Regions from separate parts of the Homo sapiens genome. Here region 2 is linked to region 1. A link means that fine-mapping ties the variant in region 1 to the expression of a gene that starts in the linked region. Tissue or cell type: whole blood. Region 1 holds a variant in brackets; the other region holds the start of a gene. All regions are shown on one strand. Distances are between the middles of the regions.

Region 1 (5,229 bases):
TCTGCCTGCCTCGGCCTCCCAAAGTGTTGGGATTACAGATGTGAGCCACTGCGCCCTGCTGGCATCTTTTTTTTTTTTTTTTTTTTGAGATAGAGTCTTGCTCTCTTTCCCAGGTTGGAGTTAAGTAGCTCAGTCACAGCTCACTGCAGCCTCAACCTCTTGGGCTCAGGTGATCCTCCTGCCTCAGCCTCCTGAGTAGTTGGGACCACACGTGTGCACCACTATGCCCGGTAAATTTTTAAGAATTTTTGTAGAGATGGGGTCTTCCTATGTTGCCCACTCCGGGCATCTTTTGATGTTTATGATCATCTGACTGTAAGGGATTTGTGTTCAAAGGCCAGAGGGTAGCCTGTGATATTGTGATACAATAGGAAATATGTATTTGGTCTTTGCCTCACGTACCTGACAGAGCTTCTAAGGTCCTCGTAATTTCCTGAGTGGCAAAGATGAGAGGTACATCTTTTGTTATTCATCATAAGCCCCTTTCTTTTTCTTTTTTTTTTTCTTGTTTTGTTTTGTTGAGACAGGGTCTCACCCTGTCACCCATGGCTGGAGTGCAGTGGCACAATCGTAGCTCACTGCAGCCTCAACCTCCTAGCCTCAAGCAATCCTCCCACCTCAGCCTTCTGAGTAGCTGGGAACACAGTCACGTGCTACCATGCCTGGCTAATTTAATAAAAAATTTTTTTAGAGATGGGGTCTTGCCATGTTGCCCAGGCTGGTCTCAAATCCCTGGCTTCAAGGGATCTGCCTGCTTCAGCCTCCCAAAACATTGGGATTCCAGGTGGGAGCCACGGTGTCCAGCACTATTCCAGTTTATTATAAAAGATACAAACAGCCAGATGCACAGGAGCATAGGGTGGGGTCTGGAAGGGCCCTGAATGTAGGGCCACTGTCCCCGTGGAGTTGGGGTGCCCCACCTCCCAGGTAGTGGATGTATTTGGCAACCTGAACGCTCCCAGAAACCTATCTAGTGGTTCTTATCAAGGTTTCGTGACGTAGGCATAATTGATTAAATCATGGCCATTGGTGATTGGACCCAACTCCTAGTCCCTCTCCCCTCCCCAGAGGTGAGGAGTGGGTGAACTGAACCTTCTAACCCTCTAAGCATTCCAAAGCTATCTAGGTACCCCCACACTGAGTCATCTTGAGTCATCCCATTAGCATACGAAAGATACTCTAATCACTGAGGAGGGTCCAAGGGCTTTGGCAGCTCTGTGCCAGGAACCAGTGACAGGGAACAAAGACCAAGCAGATACTTTTTATTATACCACATAGGTCTTCACTTTTCTTTTTTTATTATTTTATTTTAGTTATTTATTTATTTTTAAAGACATAGTCTCACTCTGTCTCCCAGGCTGGAGTGCAGTGGTGCAATCTCGGTTCACTGCAACCTCCACCTCCTGAGTAGCTGGGATTACAGGCATGCACCACCACACCTGGCTATTTATTTATTTATTGAGACGGAGTTTCACTCTTTTTGCCCCGGCTGCAGTGCAATGGTGTGATCTCGGCTCACCGCAACCTCCACCTCCCAGGTTCAAGCGATTCTCCTGCCTCAGCCTCCTGAGTAGGTGGGATTACAGGCATGCACCACCATGCCAGGCTAATTTTTGTATTTTTAGTAGAGACGGGGTTTCGCCATGTTGACCAGGCTGGTCTTGAACTCCTGACCTCAGGTGATCCACCTGCCTCAGCCTCCCAAGGTGCTGGGATTACAGGCGTGAGCCACCGCACCCAAGGTCTTTACTTTTCCTCTGAGTTGTTGCCCATGCCATTTACACCCCAGGGTAGATGGGGCTCTGGGTGTCGCTTTTCTTCCTGGGATCTCTGTTCTTTCCTCAGCCACTGTCCCCTGGGACTTTCCTGCCTCGTTTTCTCCTAGAGCCCCAGCTTGGTCTCTCCTTCCTTCCTTTGTTCATTCATTCATTCTCCCAGTGTGTACCGACTGGTCATCCACCCCGTGCCAGCTGCTGGGCTGGGTGCTGGAGAAGCAGCTGTGAGTGAGGCACTCAGACCCGGCCCCATCTGACAGCGGGCCACAGGGTCCTGGAAGCCATGCATTCGCTGTCATGACAATCACTGAACTGACTCCCTGCCGTTAGAACTGCCTGCCGTCTAGAACAGAGCTGGTCCAGCTGCAGGGTAATGCATGCCACTGGGCAAGTTTAAATTTTCTAGTAGGCATATCAGAGGAAGTAAGAAGATATTTGTAACAGCTGAAAGGTGAAAACAGTCCGGGCACACTGATTCATACTTGTGATTCCAGCACTCTGGAAGGCCAAGATGGGAGGATCTCGAGCCCTGGAGGTGGAGGTTGCAGTGAGCTGAAGTTGTGCCATTGCATTCCAGTCTGGGTGACAGAGTAAGACCCCATCTTAAAAAAAAACCAGAAAAAGCCTGGGCACAGTGGCTCATGCCTGTAATCCCAGCACTTTGGGAGGCCAAGGCAGGCAGGTCACTTGAGGTCAGGAGTTCGAGACCAGCCTGGCCAACATGGTGAAACCCCATCTCTACTAAAAATACAAAAATTAGCCGGGCCTGGTGGTGTGTGCCTATAATCCCAGCTACTTGGGAGGCTGAGGCAGGAAAATTGCTTGAACCTGGGAGGTGGAGGTTGCAGTGAGCCAAGATTGTGCCACTGCACTCCAGCCTGGGTGACAGAGTGAGACTCTGTCTCAAGAAAAAAAAAAAAAAAAGAAAAGAAAAAGAAAGAAGAGGAAAGAAGAAGGAGAAGGAGAAGGAGAAGGCCTCCAGAAGGACCAGCCCGCTGACATCTTGATTTCAGACTTCTAGCCTCCAGAACTGTGACAATCAGTTTCTGTTGTTTTAAGCCACCTAGTTTGTGGTCATTTGTCACAGCATCCGTAGGAGGGAGAAAGGAGAGTGAGAGAGACTAGGACATCCTTCTGAGCCTGCACAAGCCTCAGCTGCCCCGTCTGTACAATGGGCACAACGGCTCCACTGTTGACTGGTGTTGCTGGGAATGAATGAGTCATGTGCAAGTGTCCAAATCTCAGGACCTGCCAGGAAGCAGAGGGACCCCACAGAACACAGG[C/T]GTTGATCTCAACTGTCAGTTCCGTTTTAGAGATAAGGAAATAAACATTCAGCGAGAGAAGTGGCCCGCCCGGTCATCTGACAACATGTGGCAGGGTGAGGCCGGCTCTCGGAGTACAGATCCTCATTTCTGAGATGTCCTTTCTGTCTGGGCTTTGCCCCAGCCACCTCTGTGCCCTCGGTTCCACCAGTGTGAACTGCCTAGCCGGCACACGCCACACCCTCCGTCCGGCTGTGCTCCCTGTAAGGACACCTTTCCTGCTCCTCTCCCACCTAACTCTGGCTTAGCCTTCAACAAGAGCCACTTCCTCCTGGAAGCCTTCCCTGACTGCCCTCACCCTCTGGGAGCTTTCATAGGAGCCCAGTTTGAATCAGCAGGGGCCCCACCCTCCAGGAGTTGTCCGTTCTAGGGAAGATTGTGAATCACCGATGTCTTCGAGGTGGGGCAGGTCTAAACAGGCGGAACAACACACTCTGGCACCTCAGACCCAGCTGTGTCTGAATTGCCCAGATGGTCAGGAGAAGGCAGCCCTGGGACCTGGCAGCTGGCTGCATTGCTTATTCCCCCAGGTGACCCAGGAGGTCTGGTCTCTCTGTCAATGCGAGTGTCCCGTCTCTCTCCATCCCATGGGGATCCAGAAGTGGAAACAAAAACTAGAGTGATCTTGAGGTCAGGCGTTCGAGACCAGCCTGGTCAACATGGTGAAACCCCATCTCTACTAAAAATACAAAAACTAGCCAGGCGTGGTGGTAGGTGCCTGTAGTCCCAGCTACTCGGGAGGATGAGGCAGGAGAATCGCTTGAACCCAGGAGATGGAGGTTACAGTGAGTCGACATTGTACCACTGCACTCCAGCCTGGGCAACAGAGCGAAACTCCATCTAAAACAAACCCCAAAAAACAAATAAAAAAAAATCCAAAGAAAAACCTAGAGTGAAGCACCTGAATGGCTGGCCTTGCCCATCAAGAGGCACCCAGGCCATCGGCTGTGCCCCAAGATGACAGCTTTTGCAGGGTTGGGAGGTCAAGATTCTAGGGGGACACAGGGTTCCCACAAGTCTTCAGGAGCCATGGGAGTCCCTGAGATGGTGCCCAAGAGCTTCTGGTGTAACCAAGCTTGGTTCCACAGTGAAATCATTCCCCAAGAGGGCGGACTCATCCTCCAAACATCTCTTTTCAGTCTGTCCTCGTCCCTCCGCCCTTCTCAAGGACGTGGACAAACAGAGATGTCAGGGGAGAATGGGGTGGGGAAGTGGGTGGCCAGTTCTGGGCTGGGAGTGGGGTGGGAAGGTCTGCTGTCTCTGCGAGGGCTCCTGCCTGGGCCTTGTTAACTTTCCATCCAGGTTCTCTGTGCACGTGAGCGTCCTGAGCTGGGCCGGCCCTGGCCGCCCGCTGGCCGCATGCAGTGCAGTTTGCTCTAACCGCAGGTGACCCACACGAGGTCAGACAGCCGTTCCCACAGAAACCTGCTGGGAGTTGCCCAATAAGGCCCTTCCTTCCTCATTCTTCACCTGCCTTCCAGAGAGCCCAGGCCAAGCCAGGGAGGGAGACACCTCTTCACCAACCCTCCAGGCTGCCCCCCAGGTGGCCCCTTTTCACAAGAATGATGAGGACGGTGCAGCCAAAGCCTGCTGCGGCTCCCAGGAGTCACAGAGTCCCTGGGCTGGGAAATGACCTGGTCTGACTCACTGGAGAGACCCCCGTTTTAGATCTGGGCTGAGCAAACCTGGCACATGGTTGGCTGTCCTGAGCTTTGGCGGTGTGGGCAGTGCCAGGAGATCCTTGGACTTTGAGACCCTGTTTCCACCCTCTCAGTGACATGGCTGTGTGGGCACCCACATAACCCTCTTTGCCAGGCGAGTGGTGATTTCCGAGCCCCGAGGGGAAGAAGGAAGAAGGAAGCCATTAAGTTGCGTTGGATGGGGGTTGTTGTCACACTCCATATCCTGTGGGACCCCACAACAGTCGAAATGGGAGGGCCAGGCGCAGCGGCTCACACCTGTCATCCCAGCACTTTGGGAGGCCGAGGTGGGCGAATCACCTGAGGTCAGGAGTTTGAGACCAGCCTGGACAACATGGTGAAACCCTGTTTCTACTAAAAATACAAAAAAACTATCCAGGCATGGTGGCGCACACCTGTAATCCCAGCTACTCAGGAGGCTGAGGCAGGAGA
Region 2 (5,480 bases), 27 kb after region 1:
AAAAAAAAAGCAACTGATTTTTGTATGTTAATCTTAAATCCCACAACTTTGCTGAACTGGTTTATTAGCTCTAATAGGTATTTAGTACATTCTTTAGGGTTCTTACATATAGGATCATATCACCTGTGAATAGAGATAGCTTCACTTTATCCTTTTCAATCTGGATGCTTTTATTTTTCTTGCCTAATGGCAATGGCCAGAACCTCCAGGACAATGTTGGACAGAGGTGGCCAGAGTGGGCACTTTGGCTTGTTCCTGTTCTTAGGGGTAAAACTTCCAGTCTTTTACCATTAAGTGTGTCATTAGCTCTGGGATTTTCATAGAAGCCCTAAGGTTGAGGAAGTTCCCTTCTATTTCTAGTTTATTATTATTTTTTTAATCATGAAAGCATTATTGGATTTCTTCAAATGCTTTTTCCGTCTATTGAGATGATCACGTGGCCCAGTTTACTTTTACCCCCTGGTTGGAAGCCTTGGGTTGGAAATTCAATCTCTGTGGTTTTTTGGGGATCAAAGAAAAGAGTTACAGTCTTATAGCTCTCCCCATAAATAATTGCAAGCTCACAGCCGTGGTAAGTGTTTAGGATGGATAAAAACACAAAGCTGGCTCCTGTTGCTGCTCAGCAGTTGGGGAAAGAAAAACAAATGAAGATGTGGTAGTATTCAGTAAAGGACAGAAGAAAATTCAGGCTTACTACTGCTTTTTACAGGAAGGAAGGGAGGAAGCGAGGAAGGGAGGAAAGGAGGAAGGGAGGAAGGAAGGAAGGAAGGAAGGAGAAAAGGTTGGGAGGGAGGGAGAGACAGAAAGGAAGGAAGGAAGAAAAGCATTCATACAGGGATGTTTCTTGAACGTTATCTCTGAGAGATTTTCCCTAGGTGTTATGTCTCCCTAGCAATGGTCTGTGATATTCTGTCTTAATGTCAGTATAATAATTGGTACCTTTGCAAGCCTTGGTTGCATCCTGAGAATGGAGGAATGGCAGAGGTTGGGTGTAATCCAATTTCCTGTTCTTCTCTTCTCCCTCCCTCCCTCCCTTCCTTCTTTCCTTCTCTTTCTTTTCCCTTTCTTTCTTTCTCTTTCTTTCTTCTTTTTCTTTCTTTTTTTTTTCTTTCTCTTTTCCCTCTTTCCCTCTTTCTTTCTTTGTTGCTTGCTTGCTACAGTGCAGTGGCTCGATTATAGCTCACTACAGCCTCAACCTCCGGAGGTCAAGGAATCCTCCCACCTCAGCCTCCTGAGTAGCTGGCACATGCCACCACTCCACCGCTTTATTATTATTCTTTTAATTAAAAAAATTTTTATAGAGATGGAGTCTCACTATGTTGTCCAGCCTGGCCTTGAACTCCTGGGCTCAAGAGATCCTCTGGCCATGGCCTCCCAAAGTCCTGAGACTATAGGCAAGAGCCACTGCACCCGCCCCCTTCATATTTTAAAAGCAGTAAAATGTTGCCCACACTAATAACATCTACATGGGAACCTCCTATGCTTGGGAGAACTTTGAAATCCCTTCCAACTTGGTAACTCGTCCACGGCTGAGGGTGGCCCGTCAGTGGACATGGCGCAAGGTGGCAAGAACTTGGGGCTGGGGACACTTTGCTGAGGGACCCGGGACAAGCCACACTCCCTATCTGGGCCTCACTATCTTTAGGACCTCGGGTAAAGGCATGGGATTTGGGCACCGGAGGGTTCTAAGATCCAGGTCTTTGCCAGCATGGGGCTCGGAAGCTCCCTGTCCAAATGGCGTTTGTTTGTGGATGGCCACATCATGGTTCTGCCCATCTCCTGACTCTGTGTACTCTGAAAGCCAGGCATGCTTCTTAATTCCCTCTAATGATTTCCCAGAGAGCCTGCTGGATCCAGGCTGCTGCTGTTATCACTGCAGCCGGCCGATGGGGCTCCAAGCAGACGGGCAGATGGCACCCATTTAGGGGCGGATGTGAAATGGGGCTACTGATTTCCAGAGCTTGCTTTCAGTGATGGCTGAGAAAGGCCTACCTGGCGGCACGGACCACCCTGGGGGCACAAAGCGGACAGGCAGCTGATAAGCCTTACCTAATACCTATCCTGTGCTAAAAACTTTACCATCTTCCCAGTTCACTCCCAGTCGGTCTTAGGAGACAGGACCGCTATTGTGCCCATTTTGCAGACAGGAAGCCGAGCTCAGAGAGGATGGGTAACATGCCCGAAGGCACAGAGAGTGTCTTGGTCTGTCCGGACGCGTCTGTAGAGTTACAGGAAGAGAAGGGCCGCCCTCCAGAGGGCCGGGAGCGCCCCAGCGCGGGTCCGGGGTCGAGGTTGGTGGTCCCGCCGCCTGGAAGTGGTGGAGCGGCGCGGGGAGGGGGGAAAGTGGGGAGAGCCGCGAGCGGCAAATCAGGAGGGAGGGCCAGGCTGTCGGGGGCGGACGGGTGGGGCTGGCACCGAGAGGCAGGGGCAGGATAGGAGAGTGGGGGAGACACCAGGTCCGCGCCAGGCGTCTCGGGGGTAAGCCTGGGAAGCTCTGGGGTGGCGAGCGAGCCGGGTGTGGGATGGAGCCTGGGGGCGATCAGAGTGAGGCGGGGAACCGGCGGTGGTCTCGCCTGGGGCCCAGGTGCGGGCCGCGGGGGCGGGAGAAGCCGGAAGCCCAAGCCGGCCGCGCTCCGCCCCGGCGGGTCCAGCCCCCGCCCCCGTCCCCGCCGCCCGGCCCTTTTCTCGGGGCGCCCGAGAGGCCAGCTCAGACCTCCCGGCTCGACAGGCGGCGCGGGCGGCGGTGAGTGCGGCGCGGGGACGCCGGGGCGCGGGGACCAGCGGGAGACAGCGGGGGGCCGGTGGCGCCAGCACCTGCTGGGGGCCCCGGGCACTGAGCCCTTGGCTGGGGCCTCCTGGGATGCCAGGGGGCGCGGGTCGGGTCGCGGGCATCGAGGCGCGGCGGAGGGCGTGGGGGCCCGGCCGGGGCGGGGTCCGGCCTCCCAGCGCTGGTCCCGGCCGCGTCTCCGGTTGGGTTCAGCTCCTGCGTCCCAGAGTGGCCCGATCGCGCGTGGCGGGGTCGTCCGGCCCCCACCCGAACGAGCGCCCTTCGCGGCCCGCCGCGTCCCCCTCCCCGGAGAGGACGGCCCCTGGGCTTTTTAGAAAAAGGCGCGATTCTCTCTAGTGACTCAGGTTGAGATTTCCAGAAATATCCCCCGGGGGTTCAGAAACAAAACCAAAACAAACAAAAAAACCCCAACGAATTCCCAAATGCTATTTGCCAAACATTTGACTTCTAGGGGCGCGGGTACCCGCGTTTCTCTCCCTGCCCCCGCGACTTCGCGCAAGATCCGGGAAGGACACCCGAGGCCCCTGGGAGACCCTGGGGAGGTGAAAATCAGAGAGCGAAGCGGGCCGTGGCCCCTAGGCCTGACCCCTCCCCGCGGGGTAAGGCGGGCACCCCGCGAGCGCAGGGGTCCTCTTACTGCTGATGGCACCCAGCTCTGGGCCCAGACGCCGCTCACCGTCCACCGCCGGTGCTGGGTAGGTGCTGGTGGGACCAGCTGGTGACTGGTGGCAGAAGTGGATCTCGCCCCTCCCTGCCAAGCTAGGCAAATACCCTCCCCGCTCTGGTTTGCAGGTCACTGTGGATAGGTGGTCAGTTGGTGGTGTGCCCGAAGCTCTTCGGGGTCAGGGAGAGGAGGTGATAGGGGAAAGGTGTATGTTCTGGAAGGGCCAGTCATGCTTCAGGGACCAGGCTAGTTGGACCTTCACTGGTTTTCTACTTCCCGACAGTGGAGCTGATGTCACTGGCTGTTGGACTGAGCAGTGGTCACTGGGAAATCTACAGTTTGTGGAAGCCACGGGGTCTTCCAAGCTCCTACCAGTCTTCCCAAAGAGGATGCCTCCCTCCCCTTGGCCTGGTGCACTGGTGCTGGTTCAAAGACTGTCTGAAGCCCAGCTTGGGGTCCTCTTTAGGAAAGCCATGATTTGCCTTAATGTGTGCTTGGCTGCTTCATCTGCCCTCTCACCCCCTGCCTTCTCAGAGTGACTCTTTTTAGGACTTCCTATTTAGGACTAACCCAGATGCCTACAGAGAGAAGTGCAGGCTGGTATCTGGAATTCCACCAGTGTTTTGGTTTTATCAGTTGGAGCAGGATCTAGATGGCGTGTGACTTGCTTTACCTGGCATAGAGTAACACCCATATTGCACTTGGCTTTCTTCTCCACCAGCCCTTGCTCTGGGAACTAAATGTGCACCAAACTCTCTAAGAAACATTTAATTGTAATCTACCATGAGGGAGGCCCATCTCCCTCTTTCCTGTTACTTTAAGGCATGAATAATTGATGCATTTATTCACATTTGAGAAAGTATCTTGTAATGTTTTCACAGATTAAGTGACTGGGTGATTGATCTAAGACGTAGGATCAATTTCTTTCTTTTTTTTTTTTTTTTTTGAGACAGAGTCTCACTGTCGCCTAGGCTGGAGTGCAGTGGTGCGATCTCGGCTCACTGCAACCTCTAACCCTCCCCACCCCACCTCAACCCCCTGCCTGAGTTCAAGCAATTCTAGTGTCTCAACCTCCCAAGTAGCGGGGATTACAGTTGGGTGCCACCATGCTTAGGTAATTTTTGCATTTTTAGTAGAGACAGAGTTTTGCCATGTTGGCCAGGCTGTTTTCGAACTTCTGACCTCTAGTGATCCACCTGCCTTGGCCTCCCAAAATGCTGGGATTACAGGTGTGAACTACCTCACCCGGCCCATTTCTTAAGTCTCTAAAATAGTAGATTGAAGTGTAATTCACTGTCTTTGGGGAATACATTTCCCTTTGTTACTTCCGTTCCTTTTATGGGCGGGCTGTTGAGAAATAAAGCGCTACCCTTGCCGTGTAAAGGATGCAGAAGAATGGCTCCTGGTCCTGAGGGGTTTACGCAATGGGTAGAAAGTAGAAACACACACCGGCGAAAAAGCTGGTGCTTGCTAATGCCCTTGTAACTCCAGAAAGGGCTTGAGAACAGTGGAAAGGAGGCAGCTAAGTTAGAGAAAGTTTCATGGAAAAACTGAGGCCTGAGCACATGTGGCAGAAGGAACATGAGGACATAGTTCAGACAAACAGGAGGGTCTCAGTAGAGCTGTGGAAGAGGTACAGACAAGCCCAGGTGGTTGAAGACAGTAAATGGAAAATCCACTGAGAGGAAGGAGCTGGAAGGCGTTTCCAGCCCAAGTTAATTTTCAAGAAAATAAACAGTGCATATTTTGCTGACATTACCCATCCTCACTGCTCAGAGGTGTATAATAGCACTTTGAGAATGGGCTGGTGCCGTTTTGTGACTTAAACTTCTCCCACTGAATAGGAATTTCCCCAGAGCTACAGTGAGGGTGGAAAAAAGAGGATCTGCAAGAGGAAGTCCTGTATTCTTGGCACTGTGACTTGTCCTCTATTTGTTTTCGCTTTTACAGCAGTGAAAATAGCCCCGTGGGTGAGGCGGTCTATCAGGTAAATAGACTTCCTTAGTTCTGTGTTTCTTTAGCACACAT

The links. PIP is the estimated chance that this variant, and not a neighbour inherited with it, causes the effect.
Region 2: it holds the start of LITAF, and the variant in region 1 is fine-mapped to the expression of LITAF in whole blood (TOPMed, PIP above 0.99). The same link has a PIP of 0.9 or more in blood mononuclear cells and monocytes.

Annotation. Positions count from the first base shown.
Region 1 is chr16:11,611,769-11,616,997 of GRCh38, reverse strand. It overlaps a transcript of LITAF not described here. Among named protein-coding and RNA genes, the nearest start is that of LITAF, 27 kb to the right of the region's middle. RefSeq lists a silencer at 1,815-1,988 and enhancers at 1,452-2,059, 2,060-2,667, 2,803-3,012, 2,911-3,205, 3,173-3,222. The variant C/T (reference allele first, on the strand shown) is at 3,059.
Region 2 is chr16:11,584,149-11,589,628 of GRCh38, reverse strand. LITAF (lipopolysaccharide induced TNF factor) reads left to right here and starts at 2,710. Exons shown (of 4, transcript NM_001136472.2): 1 at 2,710-2,743. RefSeq lists silencers at 2,357-2,836, 2,867-2,946 and an enhancer at 3,847-3,956.